2 separate regions of the Homo sapiens genome follow, and region 1 is linked to region 2. The links come from fine-mapping of genetic effects on gene expression. Tissue or cell type: monocytes after LPS. Region 2 holds a variant in brackets; the other region holds the start of a gene. All regions are shown on one strand. Distances are between the middles of the regions.

What was found. PIP is the estimated chance that this variant, and not a neighbour inherited with it, causes the effect.
Region 1: BIRC3 starts here. The variant in region 2 is fine-mapped to the expression of BIRC3 in monocytes after LPS (Kim-Hellmuth 2017, PIP 0.95).

The regions. Positions count from the first base shown.
Region 1 is chr11:102,314,385-102,321,870 of GRCh38, reverse strand. BIRC3 (baculoviral IAP repeat containing 3) reads right to left here and starts at 4,387. Exons shown (of 9, transcript NM_001165.5): 1 at 4,300-4,387; 2 at 1-34. LOC124902739 (a long non-coding RNA gene) reads left to right here and starts at 4,628. Exons shown (of 2, transcript XR_007062864.1): 1 at 4,628-4,785; 2 at 5,299-5,976. RefSeq lists enhancers at 1,405-1,514, 2,136-2,215, 3,086-3,135, 3,396-3,595, 4,397-4,756 and 2 more.
Region 2 is chr11:102,398,463-102,405,948 of GRCh38, reverse strand. TMEM123 (transmembrane protein 123) reads left to right here. Exons shown (of 5, transcript NM_052932.3): 3 at 3,743-4,033; 4 at 4,257-4,410; 5 at 7,058-7,486. The coding sequence ends at 7,082. Among named protein-coding and RNA genes, the nearest start is that of TMEM123, 51 kb to the left of the region's middle. The variant G/A (reference allele first, on the strand shown) is at 3,796.

The sequences.
Region 1 (7,486 bases), 84 kb after region 2:
AATCTAGAAGAAGTCGTTTTCCTCCTTTGTAAACCTGTTCAAAAACAAACAAAAAGACAGTTTTAAAACTCAAACGACTCATGGATGGAACACAATGACTTTTTAAAAAATCATTTTCTCCAAAATAGAGTACTAGTAATTACTGATCGTTTACCATGTATCAGGTGCTTTACTAGGCACTGTAGAGGCCAAAAAGAGATAAAAAACAGAGGCCTCTGCCTGGTGCAGTGGCTCACGCCTGTAATCCCAGCATTTTGGGAGGCCAAGACAAGTGGATCACTTGAGGTCAGGAGTTCAAAACCAGCCTGGCCAAAATGGTGAAACCCCATCTCTACTAAAAATACAAAAATTAGCTGGGTGTGGTGGTACGCGCCTGTAATCCCAGCTACTCCGGAGGCTGAGGCAGGAGAATCATGTGAGCCTGGGAGGTGGAGGTTGCAGTGGGCCGAAATAGTGCCACTACACTCCAGCCTGGGTGACACAGCAAGACTCTGTCTCAAAAATAAAATAAAATAAAATAAAACCCAGAGGTTTCAAACTGGAAGACATATTATGTTTGGCTTACATAGAATTGCATTATAGTTCTTTACTAAGTTTTTATTTTTATTTTGAAATTTATTTATACTTAGAGAAAGCTTACAAAAATAATAGTTTCTGCATACTCTGCACTTAGCTTCCCCAAAGCTAACATCTTACCTAATTACAGTGCAATTAAAGAAACCAGAAAATTCACATTGTACCATGCTGTAGATTAATCTGCATGCCTCATTTGAATTTAATCCAGTTTCCAAATCCATTTTTTTCTTGGACCACAGTATTTTTAAATCTTACCATTAATTGCCAACATGTTTAAATGTAAGAGACTTCCCATCACATTCTAGATTCCAAGCTTCTCTTGAAACATCAAAAGATCTAGCAACACTGGGCCTATAGTCCTGCAGGGCAGCAATCAGCTAAAGCTGAGCAGCAGCTGTGCCCTTTAGAGAGGGAACATGTTCTCTTTGATTCCCTGACACTGGGACTGACTGTTCTGGTAGTCTCCACTAACAGTAACAGTCTAGCAATAACAGACTGTTGCTATTTGTCATTGAACTGGCACTATTGTTTTTCTTACAGCAGAATTATGAGAAAGTGAAATCAATGTAACACATGTGTCCATCAAAAGTAACAAAAATGAAAAGTAGAGAAAAAGGACATATGTTTTGAGAAAAATAGGATAATTTTTGTCTTTGTGGAAAGGAAGGATATTCCTTCATATCAAATACGTAAACAGAGTATGCTTTCATTTAAAAGAGACACCCCACAAGGCCTCATGCCATGGCTCACTCCTGTAATCCCAGCACTTTGGGAGGCTGAGGTAGATGGATTGCTTGAGCCCAGGTGTTTGAGACCAGCCTCAAACTGGGTGACTTGGCAAAACACCATCTCTACAAAGAAACTCAAAAATTAGCCAGACATGGTGGCACCTGCCTGTGGTCCCAGCTACTTGAGAGGCTGAGGCAGGAGGTTCACTTGAGCCCATGAGGCAGAGCTTGCAGTGTGAGACTGCATAACTGCACTCCAAACTGGGTGACAGAGCAAGACCCTGTCTCAAAAAAAGAGAGAGAGAGAGAAAGAGAGACACTGAGAGTTTTTCTCATTTATATCACCTCCATTTGAGTTTGCAAACCCCTTACACAAATCTTATCCTAAAGAAGCTTTAGGTCAGGCGTGGTGGCTCACGCCTGTAATCCCAGCACTTTGGGAGGCCAAGGAAAGCAGATAACTTGAGATCAGGAGTTCGAGACCAGGCTGGCCAACATGGTGAAACCCTGTCTCTACTAAAAATCCAAAAAAAAAAACCATCGGGCGTGGTGGCACGCACCTGTATTTCCAGCTACTCAGGAGACTGAAGCAGGAGAATCACTTGAACCCGGGAGGTGAAGGTTGCAGTAAGCCAAGATCACACCACTGCACTCCAGCAAGGCATATATTTGTGGAAATTTAGGCAACAACTATACAATAAATATACACAAATATGCCAAGATGTCAACCCTAGATCACTTCAACCTCTGTCCTAATCATTTCCAACACCTAGATGCAACCCTGCAGACTGGGACCAGCATCACTTAAGACTCCTCTGCCATCCCTTAGCAATAGGCTCAGCTCCCTAGCCCATGCCCTATGCACCTCTTCTAAACCTTCAACACCTTCCTCAAATTTCTCCACTGCACTCCATCTCATTTTCAGTCAATTACTTTGCCTTCTGTTTCTCAAAGAAAAGAGACATCATTGAGCAGGAACCTTCTCACGTTCTCATATCCAAGCCGTTTTGGCTCACAACCTACTTGCTGTCTCAGTTAAAGACTTGCCCCCTTATGGGATCCTACACTGTCCTACTGCCTCAGAAATCTTGTTCTTAATCCCATCCCCTCATTGCTTCAACTCTCATTCCTGTCACTCTCGACTGGCCTTTTTCCTTTCACATAACCATGCTTAAATCTATCTCAACTTTCAAATGAAAGAAATTTTTAAAATTCTCTTTCGGCCGGGTGTGGTGGCTCATGCCTGTAATCCCAGCACTTCAGGAGGCTGAGGCGAGTGGATCACGAGGTCAGGAGACTGAGACCATCCTGGCTAACACGGTGAAACCCCGTCTCTACTAAAAAAAATACAAAAAATTAGCCGGGTGTGGTGGCATGCACCTGTAGTCCCAGCTGCTCAGGAGGCTGAGGCAGGAGAATCGCTTGAACCCGGGAGGTGGAGGTTGCAGTAAGCCGAGACTGCACCACTGCACTCCAGCCTGGGTGACAGAGTGAGACTCTGTCTCAAAAAAAAAAAAAAAAAATCCTCTTTCAACCACACTTTCCACTCTAGCAACTACCCTGTATCACCCCTTCTCTTCACAGCCAAGCAAACTGGACATGTGTGTATGGTTAATGTCTCCATTTTCCCTCTCCCATTTACTCATTAAGTCAGCATCACTTAAAACTGCTTTCGGTGTTAATAACACCAATGGCTTTTTTGCTAAAACCAATGGAAATGTTTGCATCTGACACTGGGACACACTTCCTCTTAGAAATGTCCCATTCCCTGGGCTTCTCTGATACCAAGCTCTTGGGATTCTTCTTTCATTTCTAGTGGTTCCTTCTCAGATTGGCTCAGTCCCCAGCCTCTCCTCTTCTGACTCATTCATTTAACCTACCAAGAAGGCAACCTCCCCAGTCCCAGGGCTGTTGGGCATCCCTACCCTTTGGGCATGCAGCACATCCATTTTTCTGACACTGGAGGGCAAGTGTGCCTTTTCTTTCTGCCTCCCGCTAGACAGTAAGCTCTTTTAGAATGGCAACTATTAATATGTTTCATCTCTGTACCTGCCCTCCCACTCATAGCATCTGCAGAGCTTGGTATATGGGGTAGACACGAAGACTTCCCGTTGAAGAAGTAAATGACTGAGACCTGAGTGACCACAGTACTTCTATCAATTTTATATTAATGACCACAGAGTCAGCTCAGTGATTGATTAGTATCAGGCTTTGGAGTCAGACATCGGGGGTGCCCAATACCAAGCAGTCCGGTAACCAGAAGCATGACCTTGCACAAGTAAATCTCCAAGAGCCTCAGTTTCCTCATTGTCAAATGGAGATAATTATGGTACCTGCTTCTTAAGATTATGATAATTAAACGTGAAAAATACATGTAAAGTCTTCAGAGACAAACCTAGCACATAGCAGGTAGCAGTACTTAATGTTAGCAATAAATAATAGCAAATAAAGTCAATATTTAATATTATTGTTACGTTAGCATCAGGTACATGCCTTCGACAATGTATTGATCAGAGTAAGAGCACTACTAGGTTTCCATGCTGATCACCAGGAAGACAACCAAAAACTGCTGTCTTCCTACCACCGCTTGGAAACATGCGTCCATTTGCTCATTAAACGTTTTACTTCCTTCCTGTGCCAGAGCTCTGCCTTAGGCTCTGTCCTGAAATTTATTTGGCACCTGCAAAGGCCCAGTGATAACTCTTGGCAACCGAATCAAAATGCCACAACTTCACAATTCCACTGGCTCACTCCAAACGTGAAATAGAAATTGAGCACCTGGAACCTATCTAGAGCCTGCTTTTGGGCCCTGGTGTTTGATAACTGCGCCCCACCCACTGACTCTCAACCTCTGCAGCGCCCCGGGCTCTAGCCCTAAGCGCCCCTCGGCCAGCCGCTGGCACATCTCTTACACCAGGGGAGGCGCGCGCGCGCGCACACATACACACACACACACGCACACACACACACACACACACCAGCCTTCCTTGCCCACCTGCTGCCCAGAGGCCGACGACGCATGCACCAGCAAGGACAAGCCCAGTCTTTTCAAGCGACACCTGTCGCCTGGCCTTTTCCGTGCCGGAGGGCGCGAGTCTCACGCTGTCTTTTAAATGCGTCACCCAAATCCCCACCCCTATCTGTACCAGGCGTTCCGCACTCCTCCCAGTGGTTTGCATGTGCACTGGTGCTTTCCTTTTAGGACTTAGGGGAACTCCAGCGGTAATAACCACACACACTTCCTCTTAATCAGTGGCCTGGCAAACCCACTCGGGGATTTCCATGACCCAAAAGCATGACTCTTAACCGTGGCATATCTTCGCGGCATTTACTGAAAGACATTTGCTTCATTGCTCGTGGGTCAGAGGAAATCTTGATAACAACCCATATAGAGAGGACGATCATTGCTTAGCCTGCCTGGAAAAGGTCAATATGCCCTGTTCTCCACCCTCCATCCGCCATACACTTTACACGTAAAAAGGTTAGGTTTTTCAATCTTCTACTATAGCTGCAGAAGTCCAGCATTTAAAAAAAAAAAAATCGAAACTTTGTGAAATATTTCTATTTATTTTTACTTTTTGTTCTGATCAAGAAAGTAAGAGGTGAAAGGAAATGTAGGGGTATGTGAAAAAAATCATGCAGTTCTCCTTTGCAGTTTATTTTACCATTTTAAAGATTGAAATGGCTTGGTAAATTTTCTGTATGGAAATACTTTTGTTTGGTTTGGTGAGTTGTTTTTTTTTTTTTTTTAATAAGTAGGGTGGAGTTGGCTACTTAAAAAAATCCCTCCTTTATAGCCTTTGATCTCACAGGGCAGGTTTCTGAGTTGCAGTGCCATTCTCAGGGAAACCTGACATCTTTGAGTCTAATTGCACTGCCATATTTCCCTCAACGTTCTCTAAGCAGTAAATTTAAGCAACTTTATCTGAGAGCCATCCGTACCAGGGTAACAGATGGATTTGGAGAGCTCATCTGATTTTCTATCTTCCAGTAGATCAAAGACAATTACCAACCAGAGACAGAGCCCATAAAGATTATTGGAGACTTCATCGTTCTGTGGAAACAGCATCCAGTGCATTCTGCACGCAATTGGACTGAGCTGAGGCATCCTCTTGTTTAGGTGGACTTGGCTGTCCATAGCAGCTGAAGTTCCAGTTGGAATTATTTCAGAAAGACTAAGTGTATTTATCATATGGAGATTTTAATCCACATTTGAGTCTGCTTCAATCAAGACTTTCTAAGCCATTTTCAACTCACTCCTGAGATTATTGAAAATAATTTGCAGGCCTTACACATTTTTGATTATGTACTCACCAGAAGAATTTTGAAAAGCTCTGCATTCCCTTGCCCATTTTTAACTTAACATTAAAACATAAAGCTCTTGTACATGTCAAGAATCTACAAAATGTAAACATAGATATTTTCAGAAAAAATTGATAGAGCACTCTTTTAAATGTATTTGATGGATCCTAATACCATAGTAATTTGACATACATGATCATCCATGAAGCAATTATCAGGTCATCTTTAATAACTGAAAATATTTTATCATTGCCTTTTGTCATTGAACATTCCAATTCCCCTACAGAATGTTAATACATGTTTGTACTGAACATCTTTTATCATCTCTCTGTCACATATCTCTGAAACAAATACATATTAGAACTTGAAATCTATTTTTTTCTCTGGGATCATAAGGATCTAAGTGTTAAAAAAAAAAAAAATTCCTCTTTGACCAGGCATGGTGGCTCACGCCTATAATACCAGCACTTTGGGAGGCGAAGGTGGGTGGATCATCTGAGGTCAGGAGTTCAAGACCAGTCTGGCCAACATGGTGAAACCGGTCTCTCCCAAAAATACAAAAATGAGCCAAGTGTGGTGGTGCACGCCTGTAGTCCCAGCTACTTGGGAGGCTGAGGCACAAGAATCACTTGAACCTGGGAGGCAGAGGTTGCAATGAGTCAAGACAGTGCCACTGCACTCCAGCCCTGGAACAGAGTGAGACTGCATCTCAAAAAAAAAAAAAAAAAATCCTCTTTGATTACATTATCATTGATATTGTTTTCATTACTTTTAAAGCATAATTGGTCAATACAATATAAAAATATCGTAAATGTTAATAACTGCATTACAAATACAATTTAAGGGGGTGGCAGCTTGTATTTTAAGCAAGTTTTTCAAGTGTGCAGTCATGAATATTACCTATAGCTATAATATGTTAGGGTTCAGCACAGATTCTGTTCCTTTTTTCATTTCTACAGACATAAATGTTGTAAACCTTATTTCACAGAAGTAAGTAGATAAGTAGATAGGCCCAGAAGAAACATTATTATGGCAATTTTTTCACAATTTAAAAAATATGTTTTATATTCCAAAAATCATTTAGTGATCTCTAATCAAAATATGTAATTACTTATCAGTAGACAACTCAATTTTGTTGAAATTGGTGGTTTAGAAACCACTGAACTTTTGGTATCCAGATACAGTTGACAGAGTTAGCAAATTAAAACAGAGAACACCTAGTTAAATTTTGGTTTAATATAAACAATGAATGCATTTCCAGTATAAGAATGTATTGTGCAATATTTGGCACCTAGCTATACTAATAAGTTATTCATTAGTTATCTGAAATTTAGATTCAGTTTGGTGTTCTGTATTTTACCTGGCAACCCTATATCCAGATATTAGAGTCATTCATTTTCTCAACACTAATACAGATCGATTATTTCAAATCATCCAGGAGGTTTCTACACCCAGAGAAATATACGATTTTAAAACTCATGATAGGTGAGAGGTGAGCCTGTCTTTTAAGGGAAGACAGAGAACCATTGTGAAAAGGGAGATGAGAAGACAGAACAACCCTGGCAACCTTCACAGTTCTTGTTTTCAAGCAGATCAGTTTTGGGAGAAGCTACATATGGAAGTTGAGAGTGAGACTATTAATTCCTTAAAACTATTTGAGCTCCCACCTCCCTGTTGGTAAGTCTTTGTAAACACCCAGGGGCACACTTACCCCAGTTTAAAAACTATGGCTGGCCAGGCACATTGGCTCACACCTGTAATCCCAGCACTTTGGGAGGCTGAGGTGTGTGGATCACCGGAGGTCAGGAGTTCGAGACCAGCCTGGTCAACATGGCAAAACCCCATTTCTACTAAAAATACAAAGATAAGCGGGTCATGGT
Region 2 (7,486 bases):
GGAGAGCATCCTTGCATTTCATTTATGCTTAAAAGCATCAGGAAACACAGTTTAATGCAAAATTTCCTTTTGCCTGTTTTGTCAATTCATAGAAATCGACAAAGAAATTGACATAGAAATTGACAAAATTTTTTGTTTCTTTAGCACATTTGGATTGACTTAGCGGAGAACTAACCTATTATAGCTTCCTATTTTGGCCCATGTGACTTTGTACAGTATCTTTGAAGAATGTTTTATTATACCAGAGGGCAGGGGGAGGGGTGTGTGTGTGTGTTGAATCCGAAAGCAGCATTGTGTTCATTGTTTTATTCTGCGGGATCATTCTATTCTAAAGATAGGATATAAACGTTGGTTCTTTGCTGTATTTAATTTCATTGCAATAGAATCCATTCAGCATTTTTAAATAAAAGGTGATTATTTTAATGTTAAATTCTATTACTTATATCTCTATAGAACATTCAGACTTGAATAAGAAAAGATTAGTTCAAGTTCATTTGAACTTAGTGCATTTGTATTACCTACTTGGATATTTATTATTTATTTGCCTATGTAGTATAAAAGCGTTAATTCCTTTGGCCTTATTAAGAAAATAGATCAGGCCGGGCACGGTGGCTCACACCTGTAATCCCAGCACTTTGGGAGGCTGAGGCGGGCAGATCACAAGGTCAGGAGATCAGATCGAGACCATCCTGGCTAACAAGGTGAAACCCCGTCTCTAATAAAAATACAAAAATTAGCCAGGCGTGGTGGTGGGCGCCTGTAGTCCCAGCTACTCAGGAGGCTGAGGCAGGAGAATGGCGTGAACCTGGGAGGCGGAGCTTGCAATGAGCTGAGATCACGCCACTGCACTCCAGCCTGGGCAACAGAGCAAGACTCTGTCTCAAAAAAAAAAAGAAAAAAGAAAATAGGTCATACTCAGTAGAAGAGATCACAGAGACCCAAAGTTGAAGAAAGTAGTAGAAATTCCAGTAGTAAAACCCGATATGCAAGTAAGCAGCACTATTAAAACCAACTTGTTTTGACAGTTAAGTCAAAAATAAATATAGCTGGGGCCGAGCATGGTGGCTTAGCCTGTAATCCCAGCACTTTGGGAGGCCAAGGCAGGCAGATCACCTGAGGTCAGGAGTTCAAGACCAGCCAGGCCAACATGGCAAAACCCCGTCTCTACTAAAAGTACAAAAATTAGGTGGGCTTGGTGGTGCATGCCTGTAATCCCAGCTACTAAGGAGGCTGAGGCAGGAGAATTGCTTGAACCTGGGAGGCAGAGGTTACAGTGAGCCGAGATCGCAGGCACCGGCCCTCCAGCCTGGGGGACAGAGCAAGACTGTTTCAAAAATAGTAATAACAATAATAAATACATATAGGGGCCAGGTGCAGGGGCTCACACCTGTAGTACTAGCACTTTGAGAGGCTGAGGTGGGCGGATCACCTGATGTCAGGAGTTTGAAACGAGCCTGGCCAACATGGTGAAGCGCTGTCTCTACTAAAAATACAAAAATTAGCCAGGCGTCGTGGCATGTGCCTGTAATCCCAGCTACTGAGTAGGCTGAGGCACGAGAATCGCTTGAACCCAGAAGGCGGAGGTTGCCCTGAGCCGAGATCATGCCACTGCACTCCAGCCTGGGTGACAGAGTAAGACTTTGTCTCTAAGTTAAATAAATAAATAAATATCAATCTGTCTGTCTTTCAAGAATAAGGCCAAAATAGTTGTGGAAGATAGGATAATATATGAAGTATCACTTTTGGTACTTGACAACAGTGGCGGGGCAAGGAACCTAAGGCATTGGTACTGCTCTCACTGGGGGAAAGGAGAAAGCAGGTCCAGTGGTTAATTCTGTGTACCTTAAGTATGTGGACATATATAATAAAATGGGAGTATAAAGGTGTCTTAGTACATTTTGTGTTGCTATAAAGGAATACCTGAGACTAGGTAATTGATAAAGAAAATGTTTATTTAGCTCAAGGTTCTGCAGGCTGGGAAAGTTCTGCAAGCCCTGGTTTCTGGGGAGGGCTTTTATAAAGCTGTGCCACAACATGGCCGAGAAGGTCAAAGGGGAAGTGGGTAACTGCAAAGATAGAAAACCCGAGGAGCATCCTGGCTTTATAACAACCCCCTTTCATGGGAACTCATTTCCACAGGAACTGATCCAGTTTTGCCAGAATGAGAACTCACTCACTACCACGTGAAGGGCATCAAGCCATTTATGAGGGATCTGCCCCCATGATCCAGACAACTCCCACTAGGCCCCACCTCCCAAGACCGCCACATTGGAGATCAAATTTCAATATGAGTTTTGATAGGGACAAACAAACCAAATCCAAACCATAGCAGTAGGCAACATAGGAAACCAAAAAACCTGAAAATAAACTATGAGACAGGAAATGAATACAGAAATATATTACATCATATTAAATGGACAAAGACATATTAAAAGCTTTCATTCCCTAGACATTGTATCCTAATAGGTACCTATAGTTGTAAACGTTAGTTAAATTGTCGTGTTAAAAAGAAGATGCAGTATGAAATAAAATTAACACAGAAAGGTTTGCTTCTGGTTATAGGCCATATTTTATGCAAAAAGAAGGAAACCTTTGCTGGATGAAAACAAAAGTAATCGAAGTTTATTTTAAGGAGTATTGGCCGGGCACGGTGGCTCATGCCTGTGATCCCAGCACTTGGGGAAGCTGAGGCGAGCAGATCACTTGAAGTCAGGAGTTCAAGACCAGCCTGGCCAACATGGTAAAACCTTGTCTCTACTAAAAATACAAAAATTAGCCAGCATGGTAGCAGGCACCTGTAATCCCAGCTACTCAGGAGGTCAAGGCAGGAGAATCACTTGGACCCAGGAGGCGGAGGTTGCATTGAGCCGAGATCTTGACACTGCACTTCAGCCTGGGTGACAGAGTGAAACTCCATCTCAAAAAACAAAAAAGAAGTTAAGGAGCATTAACAAGATCTGTACCTATATGTTTCTGTTTACATTATACCCCCCAAAAAAGAAAAACTCAGTTGCAGGTATGAGCAAAGGTATTGTTTGAGTTGTGTATTTTAAATCACTAATTTTTCTTTTCATACAAAATTGGCTTTTGGACTTGTAAAACTTTCACAGATAGTTTTAGAACTGTCCTTCCAACTATGGGAAATTATTATTACCAGTATGACAGCTAGCCACATTCTGTGATGGTATCTCACTTCCTAATGCATAGTGGGAAGTTGGCTTTACTTTTACAAAAAATAACTCACTTGGACTTCCCATTCTACCAGGAGGGTTAGAAACATGCAGCTACTGATTTATTGTCCTCAAAGCCCCTTGGAAGGTATAGCAGAGAACTGGAAATTTAAAAACCATTTTTATATTCATTAGTTTATCCATCCATTCAACAGATATTTGTTGAAAGCCTATTATGTGATATGAAATACGTTGAGATGTTCAGACAGAGATGATTAAGACATGTCCCTGCACTGAGGGAACTCTGTCTTCTGGGTTGTTTTTTTTTTTCTTCATATCTTCCCCAAAATTTCTAACTTTATATAAATTTAGACTTGGTTTCTGTTGAGTCTTTTACTAGTTTGAGACATTTTATTGCAGTATAGTGCAAAGTATTAATGGGCTAAGTATGTTAAATGCTGCTGTATTTGTAAGATCTCTTGCTTTGTCTGTGACCATGAAAGTCTCAGTGAAATGGGATCTTATTCCCTAAATCATAGCTCTGGTTTTAATGTTTCTTGATATTATTGCAGAGACTCTCCAACATGTGCCTTCTGACCATACAAATGAAACTTCCAACAGTACT[G/A]TGAAACCACCAACTTCAGTTGCCTCAGACTCCAGTAATACAACGGTCACCACCATGAAACCTACAGCGGCATCTAATACAACAACACCAGGGATGGTCTCAACAAATATGACTTCTACCACCTTAAAGTCTACACCCAAAACAACAAGTGTTTCACAGAACACATCTCAGATATCAACATCCACAATGACCGTAACCCACAATAGTTCAGTGACATCTGCTGCTTCATCAGTAACAAGTATGTATTAAAGCTGACCTTTTTTTTCCTATGCTGCAAGTAGTTAAATGCCACATTTAAGTCATTATTCTGTCTGGCAAAAATAATATAGAAACTTTATATGCCTAGATTTCCCTTAATTCCTAATTAAATGTTCTTAACACAGAAAATCAGAGAGCTTTAATTACAATGTTAAAAAAAAAAAAATAACGCTAAAGCCCTTTTTTGTTTTCTTTTGTTCTAGTCACAACAACTATGCATTCTGAAGCAAAGAAAGGATCAAAATTTGATACTGGGAGCTTTGTTGGTGGTATTGTATTAACGCTGGGAGTTTTATCTATTCTTTACATTGGATGCAAAATGTATTACTCAAGAAGAGGCATTCGGTATCGAACCATGTAAGTTTTGAATGGCCAGGACTTTTTAAAAAAAATTGTTGGTGCACATCTTTAATTATGATAGAATATCAAGCCAGTGCTCATCTCAGGGATGAATAATTGATAGATTTATGAGTTATATTCCCATTAACCCTTTTGGCCCAAAGTAAATTGTTTATGTACAAGCTTGTGATTATAATTATTTGCAAATGAAAATGGATGTATATACTTAAAAAAATGTATTTTACTAGTGTCAAACACACTTTACAGGAGACCAAAGTTAACCTACCCTGAAATTTTCACTTACTCATACCAATAATCGTAAGAAATACCAGTTCCCAGCAGGCTTTTGACTTAGTATGTCTGTGTCTGTTGTGGTACTAAATAGCATCCTTGGTAAAACCATGGCTTTTGTTTTCCACGACAAAGACAAAAAAAATTCCTCTGACAGCCTCATTATCCCTGAAAATTTAAATGAGTGGTTAGTATAAATAATATAATTTATCATTTTACCTGTAGCAAAACTCTCTTTTTAGATGTGCATTATCAACAAGACCTAATCCATGTTTACTCTACATGTAGCTCTATAGGTCTGATGGTTTGAGGATATATCCAAACTTTTGTTGCTCCAATAGTCCTTTTTGTTTTTGTTTTTTTGAGTCTTACGTGTTGTCTTAGTTCATGCTGACACAACAAAGTATCATACAGCTGGGTGCCTTAAACAGCAGACATTTAGTTCTCACACTTCCGGAGGCTTGGAAGTCCAAGATCAGGGTGCCACCATGGTTGAGTTCTAGTAAGGGCCTTCTTCACATGGCAGAAAGAAGGCGAGCTAGTTCTCTGACCTCTAATTGTAAGGGTATTAATTCTGTTCACGAGGGTTCCACCCTCACGACCTAACTACCTTCCCAAGGCCCCACTTCAAAATATCATCACACTGGGATTAGGGTTTCAACATACTCATATTGGGTGACACAAATGTAAGAGCTAATTCACTTTTTTTAGTGTTAATGTATATAAATACCATAGAACAGATGACTGTTTTCCAAAATTTGCCCTGTGGGTTAACATTTGACATACATGTGTCCCACACACACAGTTCCTATATCAAAAAGTGTGGGAAATGTTCAGTTGACTAAAGTAAACTAAGACAGTTTACTATAAGACTTCTCTAAGCCTTTAAAATATTGATATACATTATGATTTTCCAGGATGGAATACAGTATGAACTGTTTCCCAAATTTTTAACCAAAATACTTGTTGAATGAATAAATCCCTCCCCCTGCCCCTCTTCAATGGGAGCTAACACTGTCTATCTCTTGGAACTAGTATTGTGTGGAACACATTTTGGGAAATGTTGGAATAGGCCATTGGAATCTTCCAGTTTTGACACTACATATGATTCAGTACACATAAAAGTAAATCAAACTTCTTGATAGATTTTAAGAACATGGAAGTTTCCCAGATTTTCAGGTTACTGACATAAGCTCTAAATAAACATCGCATCATAAATGAAAATTGGATCTAACAGTTATATTACTAATACTTAAACAAAAATGATAATTTAAGAACAGATTTTTTTTTTTTTTGAGATGGAGTTTCCCTCTTGTTGCCCAGGCTGGAGTGCAATGGCACGATCTCGGCTCACTGCAACCTCTGCCTCCTGGGTTCAAGCTATTCTCCTGCCTCAGCCTCCCCAGTAGCTGGGATTATAGGTGCCTACCACCACGCCCAGCTAATTTTTGTATTTTTGGTAGAGATGGGGTTTCACCATGTTGGCCAGGCTGGTCTCAAACTCCTGACCTTAGGTGATCCTCCCACCTTGGCCTCCCAAAGTGCTGGGATTACAGGCGTGAGCCACCATATCTGGCCTTAAAAACATATTTTTAAAAGTTATATTTAAAGTTACGTTGCATATATTTATCATATCAAACTCACTTTAGCTTCCATGATCACATGAGATCAGACACATTCACAGTGGCATGGCTGTAGGCTCAAACTGATTTTAAAAGAATATTAAGGTGGTGGTTTGTCAGATTAAAGGCATATTCAGAAACATTCTTTTTTAAGGTCAATACATGAAAGAATACATAAAAGAAACCATGACTAAACAGAGTGCTTTGCAGTGGCTCTGTCACCCAGGTTGGAGTGCAGTGGTGCGATCACGGGTCACTGCAACCTCAGCCTCCTGAGCTTAAGTGATCCTCTTACCTCAGCCTGCTGAGTAGCTGGGACTACAAGCATGCAATGCCACACCAGGCTAATTTTTAAATGTTTTATAGAGATGGTAGTCTCACTGTTTTGCCCAGGCTGGTCTCAAACTCCTGGGCTCAAGTGATCCTCCTTTCTGACCTCCTAGAGTTCTGGGATTATAAGCATGAGCCACTGTGACCAGCTAGAAAGAAATATTTAATAGGGACTTACAAATAGAAGCTATGTCTGTGTCTATGATTGCAGCAAGACAAGATGGTGGATCCCCATGCCATTAACCCCCAGATCTTTAACCACTACAGTATATTGGATACTTAAGGAACTTTACACAGAACACTGACCATTTTGATTGTGCAGCTTGAAATTGTTCTAATCCTACTTTACTAACAAATAGGAACATAAGTAGTTTTGACAGAAAAAACAAAACAAAGTAATTGTAACTTTTAATATATTACAGAGATGAACATGATGCCATCATTTAAGGAAATCCATGGACCAAGGATGGAATACAGATTGATGCTGCCCTATCAATTAATTTTGGTTTATTAATAGTTTAAAACAATATTCTCTTTTTGAAAATAGTATAAACAGGCCATGCATATAATGTACAGTGTATTACGTAAATATGTAAAGATTCTTCAAGGTAACAAGGGTTTGGGTTTTGAAATAAACATCTGGATCCTTATAGACCGTTCATACAATGGTTTTAGCAAGTTCATAGTAAGACAAACAAGTCCTATCTTTTTTTTTTTGGCTGGGGTGGGGGCATTGGTCACATATGACCAGTAATTGAAAGACGTCATCACTGAAAGACAGAATGCCATCTGGGCATACAAATAAGAAGTTTGTCACAGCACTCAGGATTTTGGGTATCTTTTGTAGCTCA